Regions from separate parts of the Homo sapiens genome. Here region 1 is reported to be linked to region 2. Evidence: microRNA targets listed by miRTarBase, many of them from high-throughput screens and not tested one by one. Region 2 holds a microRNA gene; the other region holds the end of a gene's coding sequence. Distances are between the middles of the regions.
Evidence for each region. Region 2 holds the annotated microRNA hsa-miR-6732-5p (UAGGGGGUGGCAGGCUGGCC, at 4,520-4,539, opposite strand). A microRNA usually pairs through its seed, bases 2 to 8, with sites in the 3' UTR of a target mRNA and lowers its output. Matches are read on the target gene's strand: a 7mer-m8 pairs with bases 2 to 8, a 7mer-A1 pairs with bases 2 to 7 and ends in A, and an 8mer does both.

Region 1 (7,118 bases), 170 Mb from region 2:
AGAAATACTTCATAATAGTTCATACAGATATTCCTCATTCTTTTTTCAGAGCTGCATAATGCTCCACTGTTTGGATATAACATAGCTTATTGAGCAAGTCCTACATATGAGCATTTAGGTGGTTTCCAGTCTTTTGCAATGACAAACAATGTTTTGGTGAATATCCTTGTACTGTATATTTTCATATTATTGGAGGTATATCTTCAGAGTTCATTTCTAGATGTGAGACTGGTGGATCAAAGGGTAAATGCGTATGTGTGGGGTTTTTTTTAGATATTGGAAAATTCCCCTATAAAATGGCCGTATCAGTTTGCATTCCCACCAATAATATATAAAAACATCTGATTTTCCACAGCCACACCAATAGGAAGTCTGGTCACATGAAAACCACATTCTCAACATAACTAGAAGACAAAGCACCTACTTCAAATTGCCTATAAGAAAACAAACAAAACAAAAACAACCCAGGAGTCCTTCACACTGCTCCTAGAAGCCTCTGTGGTGAGCAAGGGCAGTCTGTGGAAAGACTTCAATGAAAGTGAAAAAAGCTGAGCTAGCAAAGTCCTCAAATTGCTCCAAAACCATTGCCAGAAAGTAAGAGTCTGCCGTAAAAATGAAAATGCTGAAAAGGTGTCCTTGTAGACCAGAGCACTAACTACAAGCACTACCTTCAGGAAAGGGCCATAAACATAATGTGATCTGAGTTGATAGCCTTTGAAAGGTGTAGTTCCTAAAAGAGGAAAAGGTCAAAAGGAAGGGGAGCCATCCTTTGGTGATAGGATGGTAGAAAAAAAAAGTGAAATAAAATAAGAAGTTGTGGAGTGTTTTGAGACAAAACAAAAATTAGAAGGAATGCAGCTCTCCCCTCCACAGCTTCCATTATAGGTCAGCCTCTGAGGTCACAGCAAGTTGGAGTGTGCTAGAGAGTGGTCCTGGATGAACAAACAGAAAATATCCATCACAGTAGGAGACTTATAAATAGGAAGAAAGTGGAGAGTTGATGAACATACTGCAGTAACTAAACTAGAAAGCGGAAAAGATTATATTGAGCAAGAAAATATGCCTGAATTAGTGATTTAAGAAGGTTCCATGGAGATGAGTGACTCAGGTAGAGTGAAGGAGGTCATTAGAAATCAAAAGGTCAATAAAACCAGAGGCACAGATGTTATAAGGAGTCATCCTTGTCAATGTGAAATAATTATGGATAATACCAGATTGTAGGATGGTTGGGAGACAGTGAGCCAGTTCCAAATCCCTCAACAGACAGGGGTGGGTGACCAGAAAGTAGGGGGATTGCAATAACAAGGGGTGGAAGAGGATCATACAGTGGGTTTGAATGTGCAAACAAATCTCTGATAGGCAAAAATATCTCATTGCACTTTCATTCCACATAGTACCAGGCATAGAGGTGAAGTTGGTGCCCTATTTTATTCATCATTGCTATTTGCAGACCAGTCCTCCTTCCTTTCCACAAAACCCTTTCCTTCGAGTCACGTATCATCAGAATATAGCACCTGCTATCTTCTTGTTTGCAATCATCTTCAGATGTACAAACCACTCATTTCGTGAAGATTTTAGCCCCTGACTCAGTATCACTCTCTAACATGAATCCCCATGCTTCTTGGTGATTTCAGTATCAATTAAGATGTTCCATGGCCTCCTCCGCACCAATACTTTTGTCCACCATTTTATCTCAACTTCTCACAACCATAGTTCTGTTTAAACCCTTGTATCACCAAAATCTAGAAGGCTTCAGTGTTAGTTTAGATAATGTCAACCACAATAACGTAACACACCAATCCCCAAAATGTTAGAACTCAAACATTACAGAAGTTTATTTCTTCTTCACATGAAATCTAAAGTGGGTGTTCTTGATCAGCAGACAGCTCTCCTCAAAGCAATGACTCAAGCTCCTTCCTTTCTGTGGTTCTGTTATCTTTAGCACATGACTTACTAGGTTACTACAGTCACTTTCATCAACTCAGTGTAGGGAAGGAGGCAAGGAGGATCACATATGGGGATGTTTTAGGGCCAGACCCAGAAATGCTACACATCTCTGATCACGTTCCTTTGGCCAGAACTCAGTCCTATGTCTACACTTAACTGCAAGAGTGCCAGGAAATGTGTCTAACTTTGTGCCCAAAATGAAGGGGAAGTGTATTTGTAGACAGCTTTGTCCTCTGGTTGCCAATTCTGTTTTACCCTCAATTGACGCATTCTTATTTCTCACTACTGCATATTACCATTCTAGTTCATCCTAAATAGTACCCCAAGTCTAACAATGACATGACCCCATTAAGGTCTACAAAATATTGATCCTGTTACTCATTGTTTCTTACCACTCATATGTCTTCACTTCCCTTCTCACATAGCTTAAATTCTATGGTCCATCATTTTAATCACTCCCTTGTGCACATGCTCAACTCACGTCATCAAATTCACCTGGGAACACCCAATCATGATTAAATCCAAGCAACTGGTTTTTTCTGAGACTGTATCTAGAAAGCTAAATATGACTGCAGAAAAACTCAGAACGAAGCTTGATGATTGCACTCTAAATTCATGAGCACTCACCTCAACTGGGTCTTTAGCATTGCCTGCTAATTGACTAAATGTCTCTAGTCCTTTCCTTCTCTGCCTGTCTTCAAACATAACACCTCCTCATGTGTCATCATTTTTATGATGACCTTGATGTATATGTCCCTGAGAAAACAGAAGAAATGTGAAATCAATTTCCAAAAGCTGCCACCATGGGCATCTCCAACCCACCTGCAACAGTTCCCTCCTAGTATGTACTGAAGCCCTGCATGCTTCCACCTAAGGCAATCTCTCCACCTGTGCACTAAAAAGAGCTAAAACTTACTGAGCACTTACTACATGGCTGGCACTATTTTAAGCTCTACGTGTATTAACTTAATTCTCATTGCAAATCCTATGAGGCTGGTACTGATTTTAGGCCCACTTTACACATAGATAACTAAGGTACACTGACAAGGAACATCCCTTGAGTCCTGCAGCTGATAAATGCCAGGGCTCCGATTTGTCTCCAGAATCCATGCTTTTCACCAAGGAGAATTATAGGAAAAACATTTGACATTTTAGTAAATTACCCTACCAGAGTGAATGGACAGTTACTCTTTTTAAAGAGATGTGTGTGGGGGTTGAGATGGAAGACATGACAAAGGAACAAGGAAAACACCTCCGCCACCTCTTAACAATGAGTCATATGGATGAAAATAAACCAGCCACCACTGGAATAGGCTGCAAAGGAAGCAGTACCTTCAGGGAAGGGGCTGTTTTTAGTTTCGGTAAGGAGGAAGAAAACACTCAGGATGGGTGGGAGGAAAATGAGGCATTTGCACATTGGACATTAACCAAAGCAAACAGGGCTAGGGTGTGACAAGACAAAAATTATTCATGTTCAAGTATTCCCAGAAAAGTGACAGTGATAGGGGGCTAAATATTATAAAACTCAAATTTCTACAGTGAGCAGGTATAACTTGCTGTAACAAATACATCAGTCTCAAGAGGAAAAGCAATACAACCTTTGCAATCAAAGTAAAATCTCACAGGAGAGGTTATCTTAAGCAAAAATAAAACCACTCAACCTCATAACTACAGGATACACGGTAAATATAAATCCTACAAGAAAATATCTTTACCCTCACAAGCCTACTGTTTATATTTTCTTCAAGGTAAATGACTGTTTAATAGTATTTCCGCTTTTACCCTTATCTAAATAGCAAGTTCTTGCTATTAGAAACCTATTTTATGCTCACTGATTCTAATTAGATCGAGCAGAATAAAAAGTCTAGAGCTTACAAATTTTCACTTCTACACAGAACACATGACATAGTCTAGCCCTTGCTCTAAGCCTTTCCTACTTCGACCATCCTGCCACTATAATCTCATCTATTACTGCTTTCTCAATCAGCTTTCTGCCTTGAATATCTCCCTCCCTGCCACTCAACTGCTTAACAAACAGCTTAAGCACCCACCATATTCGGGGCTGTAACACTCGTAACTTTATCTTCTTTCTCTCAATAAGTATATATTTTGGTCTTCCTGTGGCAAACTATAAGCAACTTGAGGGCAGACACTTGCAGTTATCTTGGTAAGCTCACATTTTAGCATATGACAACTTGCACATAGTAGGCACTCAGCTTTTTTTCTGAATAGCTGAGCCAGTGTTATTGCTATCCCTGGAAGCACTGGGTTATTACAGAATAGGCAGAGCGGGCCCTCATATTTAACAAATGAATGAATGAATAGGTGGATGGATATGTGCCTACTCTTAGAACTTCTAGGAAAGTTCAAAGAATTTCCTAATATTAGAAACTATTAGGAAATTAGAAACTATCACAACTGCTAGTTGTGATAACTGTGGTTAAGGAGGAAAAAAAGTTTTATTTTAAGAAATACACATTAAAGTCTTTACAGTGAAATGCCATGAACGTATGAAATTTAAAGTACTTCAACAACAAAACAGATGAAGCAAAATGACAAAATAAACATTGCCATAATAAATCTAGTTATATTCTATACAACTAGTACATCTTAGTCTAGTCTAACACTTAAAATGTAATTGGCAAGATGACAAGAATATGGTAAAAACCTAGAAATTAATCAGATTGCCTTCAGGTAAATCAGTAACAAGTAATATAGATACTCTAATAGGAAAGGATATGACATGCTTGAGAAAGTACAATATAATTTTAAAGTAGCTGAAAATTATTCACACTAGGACAACCAAGGCATGGCATTCTGAACTGCTTGTAGGAAGCAGGTAGGGAATTTCTTATTTAGAAATAAAGTAGTCACGTTTAAGAATAAATTTCACATACTACATGATACCAAAAAATGGGATCATTTATTTCTATTTAGGAAAAATACATTTTTCTTCACATATCTTCTTCAACTTTTCTTGTTTTACATGTAAAATCAGAATGTTCACTGTCATAAATAAATATAAATAAATATTACAAAAGAATAAGATTTACAAATTTGACTATGGACATCTCGATTCAGAAATAATATATAATCTTTTCTTATGTTAATATTGTAGTATCTCTGGATACTTTTAAAGACATTAAGTCAAAGAAGACACCTTTCACAGGCTTTTTCCAAACTCTATTTGTGCAACAAAGGAAGATTCAGTCTTTCATTCTATATTCCTCCCTTATCACCATCAACACCCCTGGTTCACCAGCATGTTTTACCTTTAAAATATTTTGCCAACCCGAAGGAAAGATGAAAATGCCTTACAGCCAAAGATTACTTTATAATGTGGTTCATCTCTCTTTAGCAATTTTGCTTAGAAGAGACTGAATTGGGTTTTTATTTGCTTTTGATATCCAAATAATGTTTTTCATTTTTTATTTCCTTTATAAGTGGAAATAACATTACAGATCTTGTGGAAAAAAATCACTTTCCTTCTCTTTTCCTCGTGATCCCATTCTAAATACGAACAAATCTCTATGCTTTCTTACACTTTTAGGAAAGGAATCACTCTCAATTCTGCAAGTTGTTCTATTTTCAAGAGGTGTAGGTGTGCTAAGAATGTGATTCCAGGACTGCCTTTTTTCTCCTTGCTCTGTTGACATTCCTAACACATCTTAAAGACAATGAAAGCATCCTAAATGAAGAGCACAATTGCATTTATTTTATCCAATATGCAGATAAGTCTAAGAAACTAGGAACAGTCTGTATACTTGTGTGTATTTTCTTCTTAACTCTTCTTTGGCTAAGTCAGCAAGCCCATGGTTACTAGCGTCCCAAGCAAACCTGTCAACGTGAAACACGTGTGCCCTGAAAATTAAAAAAAAAAAAAAAAAAAAGTTAAAATCAAAATGATTTTATTTACTAGTGATAAATATAAATTTTTAGTTACTATGTGATAAATCACCAAAAAGAATCAGTTAATTTGGGGTGCAAAACAAAAAAAATAATGAGTAATAGAATATGGACAAGATTCTACAGGTGGGGTTTATCAGCTACAGCAACAACTAAAATGTGACGTGGAGTTTTTAGTTTCTCGAGTTGAACAGTGGCTAAGCTAGAATGAATTAAGGTACCTTCAGATTAAAAGTCAATGAATTCCTAAGTGTGGGAGATGTTAAAAAAATATAAAAATAAATAAAAACCCCTGAATACTACTACATGTGGAAGAGAAGATTAAGAGATGAAGACACTCAGAAAGTTTTACAGATACATTTACACCAAGTTATTTTTGTGTGATAATTTTGTATAAAGATATGAGATGTCTTTTAAGATCTATAAACATGACCTATAAAAGGATATCTTAGCACATATTATAATTTTTCTTAAACATTGAAAACTCTAAAAGCCACCAAGCAAAAGGAGAAATACAAGGTAGGTCAACCATCTCATGATGCAAATTATCATAATGAAGGCATTCTCTTTAAAAGTCCTAATGTATCATCCCTTTCCCCCCGAATATTTGTGGCATTATAGCATCTAATCGTTACAATAAACTGAGTTCAAAATGTAGGATGAGATGATAAGCATTACTGCTACCAAGTCCAGAACTGACGATATGTCATAGTAATGAGAGATTCAATGTATTAGTCATTCAACAAAGAAAAAAACAACTCTAGTGACAGAGACTTAAGCCTCTATTATCCTTTAAAAGTCATGAAGAACCCCCTAGCCAAGGGTATTAATGGATATTTTGCAAGATACAGAAATGTAATTTTATTAAACCATATATACCTTTTATAATTTACCAGAAAGTCTTATTTCTGAGGTACCACCAGTCACACTTAAATGGTCAAACACAACATTGAGTACTTTGTTGCTCTCATGTGCATTATAAGAGCTGAATAGTAGAGAAGAAAAAAACTATTGAATTGAATTATGTAACTGTCATTTCAATCAAAAAACGAAGTCAGGCATCTGCTTACACTTCCATCCCTAAACTAAAATTTATCATACAGACCTAACTCTTCTAAAAGAAATAAATCAATCCTCTGATAGGCAAACATGAAGAATCATTAAATGAAACCACATTATCACTTGCACATTAACTATATCCTGTCTTAATTAAGATCAAATATTTAATTAAATCAGTATGAAATCAGGAGGCTAGCCAAACATAT
Region 2 (7,119 bases):
AACTGGACAGTCTGGTATTTTAGCTTCCTGTCCCACAAAAACAAACAGAAGCCCAAGTATATTGTAAGTAAGATTTCTTTTTGCAGATAAAACTGGACTCCAAATCCTTTTACACTTTTGCTGCCTAACTGCCCCCTCCAGCCCCCTGCCCGCTCGTGCGTCCATGGGCACCTCCTAACAAGGCCCAGACCAAGGCCTCGGGAAAGATGCCCCATCCCCAAGGAGCTATGCATTCCTGGTGAATGTTTGTTAGAAATCTTCCTTCCAGAGAAGGGTCAGGGAGCTGGTGTGGAGGGGCTTCCTCCTGGGGTGAAGGAGGTCGGGGTGCATACCTGCTGGCCTTTCCTCACCCAGAGGCCAGCCCAAAGCCCTGAGCATAACAAAGACAATCACCTCTTGAAAGGGCTCACAATGATTGTACTTTATTGATGTGTTACAGGAGGTAAGGACTTTCTGCTTAAAATATTTAAAATTTACATGTGCACACAAACAAACACAGGTTCCCCCACCCATGGGGAAGGGCGAGATGACTCTGAATAAAGGATGGAGGAGAAGAAGAGGGTGTAGACGGAGGGCCCTTGACCCCTACAGGGGCAGCAGGATAAGGAATAGAGTGGGGCAGAAGGTGGGTTATTAAGAAGCATCTTGCTTACTGACATGAAGCCACGTGCCCAGCGAGAGCACAGATGAGGCCTCATTGGCGTAGAGGAGGCCCTTGGAGGGCAGGCACACGGTGCCCAACTAGCCAGCCAAGGCCAACGTCCCAGGGGTAGGGCGGAAGTGGGGTGGCGTGCACAGGGCACCCAGCCCAGGCCTCTGCTGCCCCCACCTCCCTCCCCACCCTCTGAGAGAAAAGACGGTTTGGGCCTCAGCCACGGACCGACGCCGTTACCGGCAGCGTCTCCTTAAACTACAGAGATACAATGTGTATCAACAGGGTGATCGCTTCTGACCCACTGAGGCAGACAGCTAGAGGTGCTGCATGGGCCAGAACCAATCCTACAGTATCTTTGGTTTGTGGGTTTCCTTCCCGACTTGAATCCTCCCTCTGTCCAGCCTCTGGGGTGGGCCTCAGGGCTGGGAATGGGCTGCTCAATGGCCCAAAGCCCAGCCTGACGGCCCTTGGAGGCTGGGGGTGCTGCCCTTGCCAGCCACAGGCAGCTTACTCACTGGGGTGCTGGGACTTGTAGGAGAGGATCTCGGCAGCCAGCTGCTGGGGGTCCAGGAGCTGTGGGAAGCGCCCCATCACAGCCTCCACCAGGTGCGGGGGAAACACACCACACAGCTTAGTATACACGCTGGCCTGCTCCTTGGCCAGGCTGCCTGCCCTGCCCCACGGGCTCCTGCCAGCCCCTGGGCTCTGCACTGGGGGCTCCTGAAGGACTGATGTGGGTGGGGGCAGTGGGTATGGTTCAGACCAGTACTCTCGAGGTGGAAAGGCAGGGGGCGCGGGTGGGTAGTCGGCAGGGACACTGAAGTGGCCAGCACCCATGGCCCGGCCAAAGGCAGAGAAGGCTGCGGTGGCTGGGAGCTCAGATCCATAGGGACTGTAGCCCGTGTAAGGGGCTCGGGGTGGGCCCGGCTCACCAGGGCCTCCTCCTCGAACCCCCCAAAGTTCCGACATCTGGCTCTCCAGGGAGCCAATGCCCGAGTCCAGGCAATCCTGGGAGACGTACGGGAGTGAGTCCAGCGTCTGTGGGAGCCAGTCTGTGGGCCCAAAGCTGCTGCCACTGCCCCCGCTAGGTGCGAGGCTCCTGCCTGATGGGGCATAGGTCTGTGTTAGACCCTCTTGGCGGGACCCTGGGGATGCCTGGGCCCCCAGCTTCTTCCCATCCAGGCTGCACTGCTCACTCTCTGTTAGCAGAGAGCTGGACTGGGATGAAGGTGAAGGCCGCCGGCCATTTTTGTCCTTGCTTGGGGCTCTGGGGGGTGAGAGGAGAGCATTGGCACGGAGCTCATCTGCCACAGAGCGCTGGGGGCAGCTTGGCCGCTCTGGGTGGAAGAATCGGCACTTGATCCCATAGGTGCATTTCCTTCCTGGAAGAGGAATCAAGAGGGACTCTAAGCAGGGGCACTTCAGAACCAGGGATGAGAGCAGGGAAGGGGTGGCACAGGAAACGGGGTTGGGTGGTCCAATGGTGGAGGTCCCCAAGAGGAAAACAGGGCACAGGCAGACAGGTGAGAGGAAGGGCAGGAGTGAGGAGGGCCGGGGAGGGCAGGCTGGGTTCCATACCATAGGGACACGGCTGCTTCCTGTGCTCCAAAGTGAGTGGCTTCTTACGCAGGAAGTTGTCCAGGCTGGGCCCGTGCCGGCCCAGTGGGTCATCAGGGGGCATAAACCTGCAGAGGGTGCAAAGAACTCTCTGGAGGTGGGAGCCATGCAGGGACTTCTAATTGCTGAGAAGGGGCCGATGGCAAGCCTTGCTGGGAAGAATAGGAGAGTGACACCTAAAACTGGGGCCTGTCCAGGACCCCGCAAAACTGCTCTATGGGTGGGATCATACCAAGGGAGGAGAAAGGGATCCCCGGTCTAGAGGGCCACAGCCCATGGGCACCTTTAGGGGAACTCCCTCTCTGAGGTCGTCGGGGGATGGCAGCCCGCACCCACTGGCCCATGGCCTCTGCTCGAGAGATGCCATGTTGGTTCGTAGAGAGGCCACCTGGAACCATCAACCACATACATCCCCTCATAAGTGCTACGGCTCTATCTCCCAAATTAGCCACTCTCTCCACCCCACAGCCTGCCTGGTCCCGGTCTGATTTCTCCTATGTGGTGAGCTATCCGTCTCACTCTCAAAGCTGCCTGGAGCCAAGACCCGCAACCTCCCATGGCCACAGGGCCCCGCAGAGCCCAGCCCCCAGCTCCACCCTTGCCAAGGGCACCTCTGGCTTCCCCTGTGGACCCCAAGTCTGTCAGGGCCTCTGGGAGGGAACATACTTGTCATTGACGAAGGAGTACATGAGCAGCCGCTCCTCGATGAAGCGCTTCCACTCCTGCCGCTCGCCTTGGAGGTCACGGTATGTGTCGTTGGAAACCACGATCCCGTCAGACTCGTAGGCCAGCTTCACAATGAATCTGTCGTCATAGCACACCACCCGCTTGCCACCCACGCGTCGTGATGGTGTGAACACCAGGATCTTCTTCTTCTCCAGTTCCCGCAGGATGTGCTGGTCTGGGAGGTGACGGGTGCACACAGGTCAGGGCCCAGCGGGACCTAGAGCCAGGCCTACAGGGCTCCCTAACCTGCTGATGGCCACACACAGGAGTGGTTAACGCCAAGGTCACCGGGGCAAGAACTAACTCTGCTGAGGCCTCTTCCATGCCCCAGCCCCTCCCTTGGCGTGGCACAGTTTGCTGCCTGAAGACCAAGAACATCTGAACACAGGCGGCAGGGCCTGCATGGCAGAGGCTCCAAGCACAGAGCTGGCCTTGTTCCTTTTCTCCTTCTGGACATCAGGCCTGTTCAAGCCAGATGTGGTCTTGGCTTTGGCTTTCATCCAGCCTGTTCTGAGGGGTCCGTGAATGAGCCGCAGCTTGCTCTGGGGTGGGAGAAGTATCTTGGCTCTGTCCCTTGCATTGCCAGGACAAGGTCGCTAAATCCCATGGTGGGAAAAGGTCAGGCCACTCACCATGCCCCACCTGGGGAGCTGCTGGGACCACAGGGACACAGAAGTGTGCAAGTGGAAAGGGCCCCTCTTCCTGGAGCCTACAGTCCCAGACAGGCTGCCCCCAGATCTCAAGACTTCTAGAGAAACTGATTCAGTTTTTACCTCCAAAGGCTGGGGGCTCTTGCAAGAACAGTGGTAACAGCTAACATACACTGAGCATCTACCATGTGCCAGGTACTCTTCTCAGCACTTACCGTGTGTTAACTTATATGACCTCACGAGGAAGGCAATGCTGTCAACACCCCCTGCTGACACCGACCCCATGTTTCAGATGAGGAGCATGTGGCTCAGAGCAGGGCTAAGAGGGGTCCCTGTCCAGGCCAGGGCGCCAAGAGGGGACAGAGCCAGGATTCCAACTCTGGCTGTCTCGACTCAGAGCCCACAGGCTTAACCACTATGTGATACTGCGCTTCTGCCACTGGGGATGTTGAAAGAGCGACCTGCCCACCAGTAGGATGAGGGAGGGGCTCCAGATCTGAGGCAGAAGACTGGACAAGGTGACCTCCAATGACCACCATTCAGAGCAGGTTGCTAAGGACAGAAAAAACTGAGAAAAGAAATGCTGGTCCCTGCTTGAGTTCTAGAAGTTGTAGGTCACTCCCAGAGGGTCTCTCTTGGGGAGAACCAGGGCTGCTGGGGCAGTAAGACCATCCCACCTCCAGAGGCACCACTCACCTGTGATGGGCACGTCGGGCCGAGGCTGCTCCTTCCTCCAGGATGGCACAAACACTGTGATGTCTGTGTGGCCCCGCTCCAGAAACCAGTTCACTGCCAGCAGGATGCCCCGGCAGGAGAAGACCTCCTTGTTCCCATGGCTGGGAGGGAGAGGACAGGGTTAGCCCACACTGATGGCCAGCCTGCCACCCCCTAGGCCTGAGCAGGAGGAGGGAGGTGGTCACACCCCACCCCTGCCCTGGCTTTGGTGGTGGTAGTGAGCAGTCCCTTCCCCTTTGGAGTCACCAGCCCCTTCCCCTTTCCCCAGGGCTCAGGCCCTGGCCCTCTGCAGGTGGGGCCCAAGGCCAAGGCCTCCATTCCCAGTGCCAGTTCCCACAGCTCCAGGATGGCCAGGCCCCGCTGGGACTTTCCCTGAGGCTCCATCTCCTGAAAGTGAGGAAGCGCCCAGGAAGCTGGCAGCACTGCTCCCCACGGTGGGGGAGGGCCAGGCCACTTGCAACACACCTGGGGGTGGGGGAAAGGTGCCGCGAGACTTCTGGTTCCTGCCCCACCCGGCGAGCTGCCGGGACCACAGGGACAGATGTACACATGCACACTGAGTCACCACCCCTCCCTCGCCTCTTGCAGCGTGGGTGGGGGCGGGGGAAGCACCGGCTGGGCTGACCGAGGAGAAACCAGATTGTTCCGGATTAAAGTTCAGTCCTCACACACACCTCAGGGACTGGGGCCTGAGAAAGGCAAAGGGGAAGGGGCTGGCGACTCCAGCCTTCAGCATGGGACAGAAAGCGCCGGAGTGAAGCAAGTTCCCCAGGAGCCTTTCAGTCTGAAAGTGAAAGGATACTGCTTTTCCTCCCAAGATGGCAATTCCCCCAAATGCCTCTTCACCCCAAGGCAGAAAGACCATCAGGAAGATGCTAGGGGACTCTTAGCAAGGACAGCTGAGTAAGGCATGGGCCCTGCCTTGGTCTCAGACGAGGCCGCGCCCCACCCACAGGTGGCTGCACCCAGAAGGAAGCCTGGCAGGGCTCCTGGGCTGCCGCAGCTCTCCGTTCCTCTATCTGAAAATGGGCCCAGCAGTCTGCAGCTTCCTTAAGAGGGGTCAGTCAGTGGGACAGCTTTCCTGGTGGCTTCAGGCCAAAGATGGCCCTGCAAAGTAGGGGTTCCAACTGGATTTCCTGAGGGATGGGGGACTGGGGCTTGGGGCTCCCAGGTAACACTAGGTGTCATGGAAGAGCTCCTAGGACCAGCAGCCCCACGTCTCACTGCCCCCTCAGTGAACAGCTTAGACTCTCGTATTTGGCAAATAAAACAGAATAAATGTTACGCAAAAGAGGCAAGTCCAGGGCCAACCACATCCTGTGGGTGTCTTTAATGGGAGTGGGGGAGGTAAGGGGTGATAGCTGGAGCCCTAAGAGAAGCTAGGGAGGGAGGTGGGGCAGCTGGGGGCCATGGAGGCTATTTGGGGGCAAGACTGGGGCACCAGGGTCTGAAGGTCTCTAAATTGTAGGGGAGACAAAGTCCAGCCCAGGGCAGCACTCATCCTTCCCGGTCCCTCTGCCACATCTGCCAGCCTGCTTATAATAAAAGTTCCCATTTGCTGAGAGCTGTGAACCAGGCCCTGTTATAAGTGTCTAACACTGAATCATCAGCAAGCTTGTGAGGAGGGCACTATACCATCATCAACTCCTTCCCTGTTTTTCAGATGAAAACTGTGGTCCAGAGAAGGCAGCTTAGTCACCAGGGTCACACAGCAGTTAACGGTGGAAGAGAGACGCAAGCCCAGGGCCTATGCTTATCACTACCCTGTACGTCAATGCTCAGGCAGGTACGAAGGCAGGCACAGACCCTGATCGCAGGGAATGAGCAGGGATTCGCAGGCACTGAGCTCCCGCTGGTGGCCAGATATATGGCTTCATTCTTATAGGGCTTGCTACCGTGAAGGAAAGGAAGGTCACCTGGCTAGTGGTAAGAGACAGTCAGAACTCGAACCCAGGTCTGGGCCACTCGGTTGCCTTCCTGTCTCTAACAGAAGATCCAGAATTTATTTGGGAGAACAAAGCTCCCAAAATTGAGTTTGAACAAAGTGTGTTATGAGAGACAGGTGGCGAACGGGAGAAACAATGCTGCTGGCAAACTCCTGCTCTTCCTTCAGAACCCTTGTGAGATGTCACTGCCTCTGAGAAGCCTTCCCTGACCTGCCACAATAGGTCAGGTCCCTGGTCTGTGTCTTCACAATGCCCAGTGCTTCCCCCATCACATCACCCCCCTTCCTTGGGCCTTCTGGCCTGCCTCTCAAAACCATGGCAGCTGGGTCATCCCAGGCCTGGCTCCTTGTCTCAGGTATGCAGTGTGCGCATGTATCCGCCCACCTGCCTCCCTCCGGGCACATGATCCTAGGCTAGTATCTTGGAGCACTGGGAACTAATGGGATGCCAGGGCTCTCAGGGCAGTGCACTGCCTGTGGGCACTGAAAATCTTGGCTGGGACAAGTCGGTTCTCAGCAGCCCTAGCACCTGAATATTCCCTCAGCAGATGGAAAAACTGATCAGTGGGCGCTATCAGAGCCCTCCTCCTGGTAGAGCACATGAGGCCTGGAGTGCCCCCCTACAGCTAGCTTTAGTCTCTTTCACTGCACTGGAGGAAGCGCTGCTGGCACAGGAAAACCAGACATCCCTGCCCCCATTCCAGTTCTCTTTGCCTGTAAGGTCAGGGTCCCCCAGCCGGGCTAAGCAGACACTGATAGGATGTGTGTGTAGAAGACTCCAGCTAGGCTGC

Region 1: miRTarBase lists CD55 as a target of hsa-miR-6732-5p. The part of its 3' UTR that is shown has no 7-base or 8-base seed match.

What each region holds. Positions count from the first base shown.
Region 1 is chr1:207,358,236-207,365,353 of GRCh38, reverse strand. CD55 (CD55 molecule (Cromer blood group)) reads right to left here. Exons shown (of 10, transcript NM_000574.5): 10 at 4,388-5,808. The coding sequence ends at 5,744. Among named protein-coding and RNA genes, the nearest start is that of CD55, 40 kb to the right of the region's middle.
Region 2 is chr1:37,477,655-37,484,773 of GRCh38, reverse strand. It overlaps MIR6732 (microRNA 6732), which reads right to left and starts at 4,544; the gene lies at 4,485-4,544. ZC3H12A (zinc finger CCCH-type containing 12A) reads right to left here. Exons shown (of 6, transcript NM_025079.3): 3 at 4,345-4,484; 4 at 2,939-3,173; 5 at 2,234-2,340; 6 at 397-2,037. The coding sequence ends at 1,163. RefSeq lists enhancers at 307-436, 4,196-5,022, 4,792-5,086, 4,860-5,399, 5,023-5,849.